2 separate regions of the Homo sapiens genome follow, and region 2 is reported to be linked to region 1. The links are microRNA targets in miRTarBase. Many come from high-throughput screens and were not tested one by one. Region 1 holds a microRNA gene; the other region holds the end of a gene's coding sequence.

The links. The annotated mature microRNA hsa-miR-4705 reads UCAAUCACUUGGUAAUUGCUGU and lies in region 1 at 3,965-3,986, opposite strand. An mRNA with a match to its seed (bases 2 to 7 or 8) in the 3' UTR can be bound and repressed. Matches are read on the target gene's strand: a 7mer-m8 pairs with bases 2 to 8, a 7mer-A1 pairs with bases 2 to 7 and ends in A, and an 8mer does both.
Region 2: miRTarBase lists NLGN1 as a target of hsa-miR-4705. Seed matches in the 3' UTR shown: 7mer-A1 at 4,351-4,357 and 7mer-A1 at 797-803.

What each region holds. Positions count from the first base shown.
Region 1 is chr13:102,042,010-102,049,931 of GRCh38, forward strand. It overlaps MIR4705 (microRNA 4705), which reads right to left and starts at 3,995; the gene lies at 3,925-3,995. It also overlaps a transcript of FGF14 not described here.
Region 2 is chr3:174,280,648-174,288,461 of GRCh38, reverse strand. NLGN1 (neuroligin 1) reads right to left here. Exons shown (of 7, transcript NM_001365925.2): 7 at 1-7,814. The coding sequence ends at 7,159. Among named protein-coding and RNA genes, the nearest start is that of NLGN1-AS1, 360 kb to the right of the region's middle.

The DNA of each region.
Region 1 (7,922 bases):
ACAACAAAATGTTTGGTAACAAACGAACATACTCAAAGAAGAGCAAACTTTCCTTCCTTAGTCATTTCCTTATGCCTAAATTCTTTTGTAAAAGACTGAATCAATTTTCACATCTGAGTTCTGGTTCACCTACTACCTAGCACATGATAGGAACTCCTATGTGGCATAAAACATGGTAATGAGGCAGTCTGCATCTGCATGGCAGCTGACAAGGAATGCTTATACAAATATGGTATCACTTAGTAAAACAGGCACTTTCATGCATGACACTAACCTGTGAAATGTACACAAATTCATATCATTATCAATAAATTAGTACAATCTACTCAGCTGTTTCTCACTTCTGAGACACTGCAGTCTAGCTCAGTGAATTGAGAAGGTCGTAATCATTGTTCCTCAGTGACCTTGTCTATTCTTGTATTTAATATTAACTCTAAGAGGCACCTGTCACAGTAAGTACTTCCACCTGTTGGAATGTAATTTCCAACATGTCTTTTTTATTCAGTAATATATCCTCAGAACCTAGAACAGGGCCTGGCATATAGTAGATGCTCAAAGCCAAAAATGTCTAGAATGAATGAATAAACAAGTGAATGCTGTGTCCAATATGTGTGAATGCCATGTAAGCACAAAGGTAAAAAAAAGACAAACACCTGCCCTTGCAGATTTGCAGTTAAATGGAACATAATCTCTCTAATATTAGTGATGTGCCAACACATGTCTGTGTATATTTTAGGAGAATATAAAAAACAGAGAACTCATGTTTTTAGTGAGTGAGTCAATTTTATTCAGATGATTTTATTCAAAAGGCAGGCTGTTTCACTCTCAAAACTATGGATAGTTGGGGCTGCACAATTCTTTGTTGCAGAGGGCTTTGCGTATTGTAGAATATGCAGTACCAGCAAGTGTCAGTAGCAAACCTCCAGCAGTGACAACAAAAATATCTCAGACATTTGTGCCAAGAGAATCACTGGACTAAAAAATACGAATTTACCAGACGGACGAATGGATAAAGAGAAAAATATGAGCTTATGAATGACAGGGTCAGGACCATATTTATCTTTGCATTCTAGCAAATAGCATTAGTGCTGATCATAAAAAGAAATAATTAATGTCTTACATTGCTCTTTTAATCTGTCATGTCCATTCATACGCATATAATCCTTAAAACAACCTTGCAGGAAAATAGTGTTGATATTGACTCCTTTATTAAATAACACAATCCGGATAAGCAAAATGAAGCACCCAAGGTCACCTTTATATTTTAGTGGTCTTTGTTCTTCTCAGGACTTTTCCTCAATCGTACTTAAAGCCACTAACCACTCAGATGACTTATTCTTCCAATTGGAACCAGGCTGCATTAAATCACAATTGTTTAACAACTGTCAAACAACAGGTTTCATCCAACGCTTACTCTAGGCCAGATACTTTGCTAAACACTGAGGCAAAACCTCCAAACAATTTGCTTCTTTTTTAGAAGGGCAAGTACTTGACAGTGGATGAAAGTGGAACATTTTTCCCCTAGAGGGATCAAATTGGGGTATAACTCTAAAGGCAGGTTTGAGGGAGAAATTAAAAAGAGGTAAAATGCAGTATGGGACATGAAAATGGAAAACCTTCTCAAATAAGGCCAGTAAAGTGCAAAACAGGGTAAAAGCAAATATCTGACCGAAACAGTGAGCCATATAAGAAACATGAAACTAGATTAGGAACTAGGAAATCTGGCCTTTCCTTCCCACGGTTCCAGCATTTATCTTGTTGATCTTGGGCAAGCCATTTAACCTCTCTGGGTCTCACTTTAGATGGTCTCCAGCCCAAAGGCCAGCTTAACTGGCATGCATGTGGACTATCAGTGCGGCTACCACATCCTACCTAGCAACTGGATTGTTGTCATGGCTGCTGCACCATCCTTGTACAAGTGCAGCAATCAGAAGGATCTCTGAAATTACAGTGCTCAAGTTCTGTTAAGCTTTAACTCTGGGAAGCTATGAGTGGAACTGCATAGAAATGACACTGGAATGTGAATGCCAATGCCCAAAGTAAGGTGGCTCTGGCCAGCCATGCTAACTTGTCTTGAAGTCTATTTGCACAGAAGATACAGCTGGAACATGTGCTTTCCTCCACTTCATCTCACCTGGGGTCAAGACCCGGTTGGCCAGCTGACTGGCCACTGACATCCCCCTTGACTCCATAGGGAGCTGCAGTTGAGGTACTTTCCAAATGAATCCTGACTTACACAGGTACTCTCCTCCTCCTGGTAGATGCTGTCCTAACTGCTAATTACCCCTAAAAGATAACTGATTCCTTTCCTATTGTTTCTCCCCTAAACTGCAAAAGATGATTGCAATGATAAAAAAAAAAACTGCTTTTATTAAATGAACTTTTGGAAGAGGAACATATATAAATAAATTAGTAGTAGTCCATAAAAACCTGTCCTTCATGTTCAACCTAATGGGCATCCTAGGGCAACTATTTGCCAGATCATCGATCTGTTGAGAAAGGAATAAAAGCGAAGTCTCCTCTTTCGTAAAAAAAAAATGCACAAAATTTTCTATAAGTTTCAGGTGGCTTGGAGATACTCTGAAGCATTAAGTTAAACACAGTTTAAAAACTGCCTTAAAGTGATCATCATTTTAATTATTTCCAAACCCATGATCTCTCAAAGCCATTTAATTGCTGTAAAAGGCACTTTCAGGAGGAAAACAATCTCAAATTACCTTCCACCATCCTCCACCACTCAAGAAGAAGAAAGATATACATCGTCAGTCCCCCACAACTTTCCAACATCAAAATTTCAAGCATTTTATTTGGCCAGATGCATGTAGATCATTTACAGTTTAATGGAAATATTGACATATGTCTACCAAAATACTCTAGATCTATTGGAGAAATTTTGCCGATGTTGGTGTACTCTGACTTGCTACCATGGCCAGCAAATAGAGGTGTCTACTCATCCTCATTCTTATACAAGGACAGAACAGCAATAGTGGCAAAAACATGTGTCTATAACCTCACTGACGTTCCCCATCCATGTCTGTTAAGCTGACCTCAGAGTCTGAGAGTGTCAATTGAATTTTACTCATCTAATAATTTTGATATTCAATTTGTGTAGTTAAAATATACATTATAGGGTGAAGTTTCAAGAGTTGTCTCAGACACTTCCCATCAAGCATCTATGTGCACACAGAGGTAGACTAAGTATGTCACATCAGCTAAATATACATCCTTTAGGGATGACTGGAAAGGAAACTGCTATGCAGATGGAAAAAAAAAAAGCTGTAACCATAGATATAAATATATGTAAATACACACAGAAGTTTCAATTTTCACAGGATGCCTGAAACAGGAATGCTTGATCTCTTTCACGAATATTAGGTTTTTAGAATTTCATAAATGGTGAGGAGAAAATATAAAATGGCACAGAAGGCTGTGGTAGAAGAACTCAGGTAACATATAAAGAAACCATCAGGACAACTCATTGTCTGATTTTGATTACTGTGGAGCAACTGTGATCTCTATCATGAAAATTCCTTAACAAGCTAGAAAAAAAATTAAAAGACCATGCAGTGGCAGAATAATGGAAATGCAGAACATGTTACATTGTACATAGGGATCTTTGAAAAGGAAAAAGCACAAATTGTATGTATCTGGTTCATAATCATATTTGATCCCTGATACAGTTTAGAGATGTGTAATTATCTACATCTCTTTCCCATTCATTCTGGTTGTAAGTTTTAAGTTCAGCAAATCAACTGTGTGATTAAAGCAACTGAATTCAGCCTGAAAATCTTTGCTCTGCCATCTATAGGATAGTCTGTCTGGTAGCTACTTGGAGGCACTACAGCATTAAGCATGTCATTCATGCAGAAGGGCCCGGGGTCTGACAAGCCTGTGAGGAATGGCTAGAAGAGCTGAACAAGCATTCTCACAAAACCAATCACTTGGTAATTGCTGAGTTGTTATCACAGCAATTACCAAGTGATTGATCTTGTGAGGGTTAGAGAAGTGGTAAATCCTTGGCATGTTCTTAAGGACTTTTGTCAATGTCAAGATCTATTCTAACTCCCACTTCTTGCACAAGAAAAAAGAGATGCCTTTTGTTCTTGCCTGGGCAGGAAACACTGACTCTCCAGTTACCCAACCCCCTAACTCCTTTTTCCTAAGCCTCTCTCTAGTCAATTCCTACGGGGCTGATTTCTGGAAAGATAATTCCACTAAAATTATTAACATGAAAACCATATATCAATATCATAGAATTATAAACACAGATAGATTGTAGTTAACTGCACCTACAAATAAACATTATTAATATTAAAGCTTGTGCATAATGATGTGGGAAAATTAATGCTTATTGTCAGAAAATATTTTTGAGTTTATTAATATAAAGAACACTAAGAGAAAAGCTCTCACATGTTATTACTATTTTAAAGAAACATGAATTAAATGGGGAACCACAAAAAACAGGAGTATGATGTTGCGTCAAATAGGAAAAGTGAGTATAGCTACCCAGGGTTAAATCTGGGGTCTTAGTCATAAATCTTTATTTGACAATTTAATGCACCGTTCTGTTAAACTACCATTTTGCTTTCATTGTTCCTACCTCAAATGACACAATTAACAAATTGTGAGTGCTGACGGTGATATCCAATAAAAGGTGGAATATATTAAAAAGGTTTATTGAAATTACTTTATCACATCTTCAGAAAATTGTTGAAAAGTACAGGTGGATAGATGAAAAGCCCTAACATCTTTTCTACCATTAGCAAGGGATGATTTTAAAAATGTAAATAAATGCATTTGCTATATTTGAAGCATAATTTCTACATTGATAATTTAGTTTAGAATAAATGTTGCTATTCCAATAATGAATGTCTCTTCATGGGTACTGCTGTCATAATTACTTAAGAAAAAAATATTAATTGGTCACCAAACCATCTCAGCAGATGGATCTATTGGGGAGGTGTCAGGTTAGTGTTACATTTTAGCACAAAATTGTTGTGTGTTATTTTATAGTATTCAAATAATCAAAATCATACAACTCTGGACAGGAATTGGCGAAGTATACTCCAAATGGAAAATTCACACATAAAACTGAATAAATAGTATATTTTTTCTGGGTTGTAGCCTAGATAAGAGAACAAAATATTTAAATGAGAAAATTTAGAAGTATAATACATATGGACAGCAGGAAATGTCATCCAAAAAGGTCATTTTTGCTTTATATAAAAAATTAACCATTTTATCCCCTTCCTACCATCCCACACATACACATACATACATCTTGGCAGCTTCGAAATTTTGGTTTAAGAATAATAAGAATAATAATGCAAACCTAAAAGATTCTAATTGTAATCATTTCTGCTCTTGAGGGAGATTTAGCTATACCTTTAAAAAAAAATTACTGGCCTGTTCAGGACAAAATAAGGATTGAAATGTTTTAAAGGATTAAGAAAATGTGGCACATATACACCATGGAATACTATGCAGCCATAAAAAATGATGAGTTCACGTCCTTTGCAGGGACATGGATGAAGCTGGAAACCATCATTCTCAGCAAACTATCGCAAGGACAAAAAACCAAACACCGCATATTCTCACTCATAGGTGGGAATTGAACAACGAGAACACATGGACACAGGAAGGGGAACATCACACACCGGGGCCTGTTGTGGGGTGGTGGGAAGGGGGAGGGATAGCATTAGGAGATATACCTAATGCTAAATGACGAGTTAATGGGTGCAGCACACCAACATGGCACATGTATACATATGTAACAAACCTGCATGTTGTGCACATGTACCCTAAAACTTAAAGTATAATAAAAAAAATCATCTTTACAAATAGTTTTTCTCAACATTAAAAAGGAAATTTAAACCCACTTTTCATGCCTTCTATTTAGAAGCAAAAAATACATTTTTATGAGAAAAGAGTATGGGCCCTTTTAGTTGGTATGGTGCCAGTTCCTTTAGAAGGAGACTTTCTAAGCCCGGTTTATTATCTTAGTTGTTTAAAAAAAAAAAAAGCAGCAGTTGATATAAACTTTTCATATTTAACTGAAGTTTACTCTGAAGAGATTAAAAGAGTTTCTATTCCATGAAACGACTTGCTCCAAGTTTCTATGACTGGGTTTCTTTTGGCTGAATGGCCCAGTTCAAGCTGTTTAATGATGTGGTAGATGAGGAAACAGCATGGCTCTTAGGTCATAACCTTGCTCTGTTGTTCAAAAGCTGTTGCGATCTTAGGAAAAGTACCAATCTTATGTTTTGTCTTCTAGAAAAGGGGGTGTGAGGGAATAATAAATACCTGTACTGCATGGTTGCTGTGAAAATTGTATGGGATAATGGACACATGAAGAGTTTGCAGAGTGCCTGATACCTTGTGGTTAGTATACGGTAACTATCATTTTTTGTTACATCTTTCACTTTGGATTCCATGTTTTATGCCCACAACATTTGGAGGTAAATTATAATTTCCATCTTAGAGTCGGAGTCACTTAAGGCTTAGAAGTTCAGTGACTTGCCCGCTGTCGTGTATGACAGATCTGAAAGTCTTCCAGTTCCAAATCCAGAATTAAGTTTCCACTCCTCATCCTATCTGGGCAATACTTAGTGCCACGTAAGTGTTACCTGCTGGGGATGATGATGCTGCACCTGTGTGAGAAGGAGCAGGCCCATGCTATTTGAAATAACTCACTGGGAAGACATTCCCAGGGGAAGAATGACATTGACCTTTGGAAACTTATAGTAGCCAGAGTTTGTGCCCAATTCCAGAACCGAGGCTGTCTTCACTCAGGCACATTCCTTATGTTATTTAGCCTTTGCTTCCCCAGCTATGGAGAAAAAGAGGATTCTCTTATTGATTACTCTGGATTCCAACTCTAATTCCTCAGATACTGTCACATTAATTATTTAAATCGGAATAACTTCCCTTCCTAAAACAGCAGTCTTTTGATATTGCTGTATTTCAGCTGATAATGGGAGAAAAAAGTTAGATTCCAAGAAAGGGCAAAAATTATGATACGAAATAAAAAACTAAGACATATGTCTCCTGAGAAAACAATGTAAAAAATCAATAGTCAAAGAAACTTCAATCAACCATTTTAAAGGAAAATTTTAGGAAAAAAAATACAATCAATATAAATATGAAAGGATATTAATTTTGAACATGCCAGAAAATCCTTATAGGCTATATATAATTTTTAAATAAAAGACACAAACTTTGATTTGCACAATTAAATGTCCTTTCTTTTACCTCTACATTCTGAGTTTTAACCAGTCAATAAATGTGCTCTTTCTAGACAAAAATAAATCTGAAAATCAAATTTTTATTGACTTTAAAATCATTATTCCAGGACTGAGCACCCAGTGTCATTGGGCCTCACTGTCACTGTGAAACCCTTCTTTTTGTTTTGAATGGGATTACTGATTTTGAGTCTTCTAATAATATGTTCACTTCAAAACAACAAAAAAATAGGAGACAGAATTGGATTTCCAAAAGTCCAAATCATCATTAAATAAACATTGTTTGCTTGCCTGAGCATTACTGTTTGCATCTTACTCTCCTCATTCATATATTAAGGTTCTAACCACCAGTACCTTAGAATGTGACTTTATTTGGAAATAAGATTATTACAGGTATAATTAGTTAAATTAAGATGAGCTCATACTGGATGAGAATATGCCCCTAATGCAATATGACTAGCATCCTTATAAAAAGGGGAAATTTACACACACGCACCCCCCCACACACAAACACACAAACACACAATGTCATGTGAACATGAAGGAAGAGACTGGAGAGAGCTGTCCACAATCCAAGGAACAAAAGAGATTGATGGCAAACAACCAGAATCTAGGGGAGAGGCATCAAACATATTCTATTTCATATGACTGAAAGGTACCAACCCCACTCATGCCTAGATC
Region 2 (7,814 bases), not on the chromosome of region 1:
TAGTCCAAAATGCAGCCAGCTGTTTTAGAATTCAGACCCATGGCAGTGTTCAATGATAGGCTTCACAATTACATGTTGAGGTTGTGGCAAAGGATTAAGGAACCACTTATGGGGCTGGATCAGATGAGATTTATGCTGGAAATTTCATATTCCATGAAATTTGAATTGGCATACTATAGCATGACTTCAGATAGGCTGTATTTATTATTTGGAAAGATGTCTGCTACATACCTTAACTGGTGAACTGGCTCAATAGAATTCACTAATTTTTTTTGAACTCAAGAAATATTGATTTGTATTTACTATTTTGAGACATGTGAAATAGACAAAACAAGGAATTGTACAGTGATTTGCTACAGAGTATAGCATAGAAAGTGGTCTAAATCAGTCCATGTGTTTGGACCTATTCCAAACTTGACAATAGTTGTATGTTAGTAAGTCATAGAATTGGCCACGTGTTTAACACCCATTATGTTGCCTAACCCATAGTAGACAACATTTGTTGAAAGAAGAAATGACTAATTTCTTTCATTGCTTGATTGATGTTCACTAGCTTCTAACCTGCCTGAGGAGCAGAGGAAGCCAATTCCCAAGGCACCAGTTGGTTAGATCACCTTTTAAGACTTTCAGCACAACTTTACCCCCTTGGAGAAGAGGTCATAACTAGTAATAGGATAGGCCATGGAAACAGGAGCCACAGTGACTGGTAAGAAGATCCCCTGTAGTGCAGAGGAAGGCAGCTCTGAGAGCAAAGTTGAGTATTTTCAGGGGAGATAGAAAAGTTTTAACTAGATAGTCAATCAACTCTCCAAAATTGAGACAGTACTTCAAATTATAGCATTCCATTAGAAAATACTGCTTTCACATGAACATTCACGAGTATATTTGAAACTTTTTTTGAACTCAGAAATAACATCCTACAAACCATAAGGAAATACAAAACTAGTGAAAAAGTAATCATATCAAACAACACCAAATTTTACAAAACATCAAAACCCTTTTATGGAAAGTGAAATTGTTAGAATATGTTTTTTAACTGTTTAATTTATTAGGTGCCCATGGCCATATGTGACCACAGAGACTTGTAAAGCAATGCTAATTCTTTTATTCAGCCATTGGAAACATTTATCTTTAGGCTATGTATGAGGAAATTATATGATGTCCTCTTTGCTGTATTCTTATCTTGGGCTATATACAGATGAGAGATTATCTTACTTCCCATAGTCTTCCTACCAATATCATTATTGATTAGATAGTACAAAACCATAAATATTTCAGTATAGATTTTATTTTTAATTGTTTCCAGTGACATGATTTGATCAAGACTTGGATCAAGAATTAAATTTAAGATATCTTCCTAGATATTATTAATTTTGTTCTCTAAGAATAATAGATTTATGATTTAAAGGGATTTATTTAAATTCCTTTGCCCTTCTTTTTAAAAAACTGTCACACATCTCTATTTAAAGCACTATTTGGATGCAAAAAGTCATTAATTTAAAATTGAGAAGTTTTTCTTCCTTTTTGTTCTCTCTCACTTCCTCCTTTTTCCATTCTTTTCTTTTTCCTTCTCCCACTTTCCTCTCTCTTTTCTGAAAAGTTGTGTCCAGCTCCCCAAATCTATTCTCTAAATTCTTGCCCTGCATTCACCAAGAGGTGAAAAGATCATAAAATGTCATTGTTTCTATCAAGTCAGAACTGTCAGCAGTGTGGAAGCAATACAAAGACTTTGTAAGAAAACACTTATCTTAGTAACCTTTTTGTGTGAGACAAATAGAGAAGAAATTATTTCTGAGTTTAAAAATAGTCAACACAACTTGGAAAACATGGTAATATTTATTCATGATAATAAACACGTTTTTAATGAAAGCCATAGATGTCCAAACACAAACTGAATCATGACAACCCAATGGTCTTTTTTACAAAAACCATGACATATGTCCCATTAATTTGCTAAATGATATGAATGCAGAGAAAGGATGAATCAAAACCACTAAAATCCTTTTAAACACACCATCTAGTTTAGATGTCAACTCTGAAAATGGCATTCAAAAATGGTCCCTCTCTTTTAAATTTATCTGCTGAGTTTTTGTTACGGTACCTTTACCAATTTCTTAAAAGCTTTAATTGTTATCATTCATTTCAACTCAAAACTGCTAGCAATTTGGTTTGACTTTCCATAAAGGACTAAATTCTGTCACATTAATACATATGTAGGTAGTTATACAATGTCATTTGTAAGTATATGGGTCTGAAAGGGCCATTATAAATGTTATATAAACCATATAGTATATAGGGTATATATATTATGTGGTGTACGTAATAGCTGACTAGAAAAAAATATATACCTATCTAGTACATGATTTTCTCTAATAGCTTCAGACTTCTTTCAAATTAAACTTACTATTTGGACAATTTTTAAAGTTTGCTAGAGATTTAAATTTTTATTCTTAAGTACCATCAAGTCAGATGCCTATATAATTGTCACTTTCAAAAATTTACCTCAGTCTTTCCCGGAAGCCATTTAGATGCATCTGATATTATTTTAAAAATCAAATTAAATGTAAAAATGTCCAAATAAACTTTCTTTATTGGTAATTTATAATATAGTCATCCTATTGTACTCTTTAAATTGAATTATCTGAATCTGAAAATTTAAAAAAGCTAAGTTTTATAAATAAAATCTCAGGAGGAAAAGGCACTTAAGCCCTGCACACGGTTATTCCAGTCTGTATTCTCCACAACCCTTATCAAATGGAATTGATTTCTGGCCTGCATCCAAATACAGCAACGTGCCAGAATAAAATCAAATCAGAATGCTTATGAAAAAGAATCAAGTTGGCCACCAAATGTTTCATAGCAGTAGGAAATTTCTTTAGAGACTTCTGATGGAAATTTGAAGTGTATGTTGCTATCAGATCAAGTGCAGGAGAGGTATAAGGCTACTGGAGAAATTCCCTTAGTCTATTGACCAGAAAGCTAAAACATTTGTCGTAACAGTAAAGCTTGACAAGATAATCAAATGAATGATAACAAAATCTCAGCAGGGAAGTGCCCATTAATTGAATTTATTTGGAAGCATGTTTTCACAAGTATAACCAAATCATCTAATTTCCACTCACATTAAAAAGTGATAGTCTATAACAACTAATTACTGGAAATGAAGGAAAAGGCCAGTACTTTGAACCAATAACACAGAAGAAAACAAAATTACTAACATCAAAAGACTGCCATATTTGACAGCTTCTTAAGAATTCAATTCATCATTTCATCCTGTGAAACTATTTCAGTGAAACTCGCCAAAGAAAAGAATCCCAGTAATTTCTATGTAGTAGTGTCTTTAATGCTGGAACACATTTCTCATATTCTTTGTATCATTTTTTGATATTAATACGTATGTCAGGATGAGTGTGGCAAGAGGTGAAATAACTGTTGTTACAGATGTAACAATTTAGTTTCAGCACTTCACTCCTGTAAGAAAATTAGTGCCATCTGTTTTCCTCTTTTTAATATTATATATACTTGATAATTTTTAAAAAAATGTTGCTGTTTTCACATACAGATCAGGAAGTCGGAAATAAAGCATCACTTTGGTCAACTTTTATATTTGAAATGAGGAATAAAATAATATATACTCAGATTTTCTGCTTTGAGTTGCCAGCAAGACGTCTACAAATCTGACATTTTTAATGCTTTAGCAAATTATTTTCCAATTTGCATAAAGTTAGTAATAAACTTTGTTATATATCTGTGGTAGCCAATTAGATTTTGTTCATAGTCAACATGTTCAGTAGAGATTTAAAACTATGAAATCTGTCACTTTTATTTTTCTATCCTCATACTCTAAAACATTAATCTCTTGGTAAACATTTGGTAAAAATTTTATATAACAGCAAAACAATGAAATAAAGTTCATTTTAGTGTAATCTTTGTATAAATTATAAGCAGCTTTGCCTAATTTTTAATCGGAGGCAGGAAAATCTGAATTAACAAATAATGCCAAAAATATTATTTTAATTTTGTTACTTACATTGTTTTTCAAAGAAAATTATCTAAATAAATACATTTTAAACATATTTGCTAAAATTGAGTAACAGTATTTATTTTTCTTGCATATAAAGATTATGTTTCAGCTTTAAAAACAGTTCTTAATGTTCTGTATAATGTGGGGCATCCTTTTTCATTCAGAAACTAGAGACTGCAATTATAAAACTAGCAACTAACACTCATTCACAATGACTTTATCACGTGACTGGTGAACAACAATTAAACCTAGGCTGCTTTATCTTCCATAAAGTTATTCTACCCTAATTTAGAGAAAATAATTAATAGGGCTATGCTTTGTTTTCCTCAATCATTTTCCTAAATTAATATAAAGAGGGTGACAGTTATGCTATATATAGGCAGATTGATAAATGCAGAGCAATAGATTGGTAGGTAGATGATATAAATATGGCCATCGTTAAAACATACTATTTAATAGAATGTTTGGTTTTGCCAAATGAAGCAATGCATATGAAAGTATTCATTCATATCTTATTTTGTTGTCATTTCTATTCTGTTCTTGTGTTTTGTTTAATTAATACAGTAAAATACAGTGTTCCAATTGAACAATACTTCAGATGCTAAACAATTATTTGTATTTGTGTACACTGGCAGTTCACAGTTGAAAAGCATAACCACCTCAGTCAAAAGCTGTATGTAGATCACTCTGGATTTTGAAGACTTTTGCTTCTAACAGAGACTTTTTTTTAATTATGGAGGAATACCTACATTTCTTTGATAGATAATAATTGGGAGGGGGGATTATAATCACATAAATTCCTTGAAATAGATTTTTATCTTTTAGTGTCAGTTTAATATCTTGCTCAGCACTTTTACATTCTCTTAGCATGGCAACTTTCTATTCATTACTTTATGGTAGTTTAATCACCCCCATTTTATGAACCTAGTTATTTGTATTCCATGAAATATTGCAAATTTCTTTTCAATAGACCTTTTCCTTGATGACTAGAATTGGAACTTGTTTTTCTAACTAACTGAAAACAATTGGCACTTTATTTCTACAACATCTGTACCTAAGAGATATTTAACAACACAAAGCTAATCTTTCTTTTTTTCATGGATTTCTGGAGCTTTTAAATTCATAACAAACATTAAATAATTTTTATGAGTTTCATCTTAGATGAGACTTGCCTTTAAATACATGTTTGTGTTTTCTGTGGAAGTTACCTATATGTCTTCAAAAACCTGACTGGTCTAATCTAGAAAAATTACTCTTTGAGACAGTCATGTTTCTTTGTTCTTCTTTTCCTTTTTTTCTTTTTTTTCTTTTTTTAGAAAAAAGAAAGACAAAACAGCAATAAACATTTTAGCTCTTTAATGAGCAAAGATCATGTTTCTTAGCATTGGACTAATAGTCATTATCCAGATTATCTTTATTTCACACAATGACCAGTGACATGGCCAAGATGTACAAAGTTGGTTCCATCAAGTAGTATACAATTTTTTGTATAATAATCTTTCATTCTTGAAAAAGAGTAACTGAAAAGAAAGGTTTCTGTTACTGCAGTTAGTTTGTCAGAGAAAGTTCTTTGCATTATCTTATAAACTATCAAAATTGCTAGTCATCTGAAAAAATGTAAAAAAAAAATCACATAACTTTAGTCTAATAGAAATATAGTACAGGTGAGAGAGAAAGTATTTATCAGGATGTGCTCTTTAAGTCCATCTCATTTGTTTTTCAATATAAATGTACATCTGATTACATATACAAACATTTGGAAAGGTCTGTGATATACTGTTACTGGTAAACAACAGGGGGATGAAGAGTTTCCTGTGGTCTGAGAATATTCGTTTAAAATCACACATATGTGTAAGAAAGACTAAAATCCTCCAGATGTTGACTCTCCTAGGTTCTGTATCTACGTTGTACTCTACTGAGATTGCGTGAGTAAATTCCAGTGAATGAACCTCAGTGAGAAAGATAAGTGATGTAAAGAGGGATATAACTTTATAATGAATTGTTATTAGTAAACATTTTGTCATGCAGCATGAGTAAATCAAAGAACTCAGAACTATAATCAGAGTGGTAATACGGGGGCATCCTCATATCATGAAAGACTGTTGCAAGTAACTCTTTGGACACACTTCACCTTACCAAAAGGAACAAAATACAGAGTAACAAAAAAACACAGCAACTTATAGATCCTGTACCACATGTCCAATTAGGGTTATATTTCTATAAATTATCTAGATGGGATTGAAAAGAACATTAAAAACAGGAAATTTTTTTCTGGGATTCATATCAGCGAGTATTCACCACTATACCTATAGTTTCTTCAAATACCTTTAATAGCTAATTCCTTCTATATTGAAACTACTGTGAATTATTTTATTGTAATTACTTTTGCCCCTTAAAATCTTCTTTAGGTTCTGCCAATTGATGGAGGAAGCTTCTATTAAAAACTCCAATGGGATGAGAAGAATTTTAATTACGGCTTAATCAGCAGCACAGCCACCAAGCATATAAATTATCATGCACATCGTGCTAAAAATATCCAGTTTCCTTTATCCCCACAACTTTATACTGACAGCACTTATGTGATAATGGTGTACCTGCCAGTCTTTAAACTTCTTTGTTTTACTGGCAAATTTCAGCATGAGCCTTTGCTAAGGCCATTAACAGCATTGACGCTTTGTGTACTTATCCAAATATGTAAATATGGTCTACACAATAAAACGGCTCCAAATAAAAACTGGTGAAAATTATCTGACATTCCACTGGTGTGTCCCTTGTGCATATTCATAGTTGTTTTTTTATTTTTATTTTTTATATTTCAGACATAGTTCTTTCCTGTTTGGTGTTCCACATGCCTAATTCCATTATGTAACTTAAATCTTCAAAAAATTAATTCTTGAATGTGAATGAAAAAGTATCATTCAGAACAATTGCTTCAAGCAATTGAAATTTGTTTTTAAAGTTGATTTGTATATATACAATTCATTTTTTTCAAAACCCCCAAAGTTCTTGATATGTATATTCACATAATATTCCTCCTTATTTAAATAGTAAGTCTTGTAGGTTGAAAGCCAAGGAATCTTCAGTGATCGTTTACTGCAATCCATCAAAAAAAATAGTTTGTTTCTCTTATCTGGCTATACCCTGGTTGTTGAATGTGAATGGGGGTGGGGATGGGGATGGGGCAGAGTATTGTTCTGTCCTCCAGTAAATGTATTGAATGTGTGTAAGGGCTGAATCCCTGGTATAGTGTTGGGAATCATTGTAATGGTGTTGGGTGTCATTAAGGGAACATCATCAGGTGACCTCCTCATAGCTAGTGTGTAATCTGGGGGACAGGCGGTCCGAAGAACCACCTCATGTGGATGAATGGACTCACATTCATGATCCAAATCAGTGTGCTTCATTTGGAGGGACATGATTTCCTCTTCTTGTGCATGGGTTAGATCATTGGTAGTAGTGCGCTGAGGGCTGCATCTCCTGTGAACATCATGTCTCCTCTTATCCTTTTTGTAGTACAGGGCTGCAAAGGCCAAGATGTTCAGAAACAGCAGTGATGCTCCAACTGCAATAGTGACACTCAGCTCTGTTGAGTAGTCCCTTTGATCCACTGAAAATGGACTTGGTTGTTGTTTGGGATCATCCTGCTTGGCAGTGGGAAAGGCTGACGTGACAGGTACAGAATTTTTTCTCGTAGGTCTGAAAGTGATGTCAGTTGATGGCACTTTAGTTGTTGTAGAGGTATACTGAGAAATGTCATTGAGATTATGCAGATGAGGTACCAACTCCAACC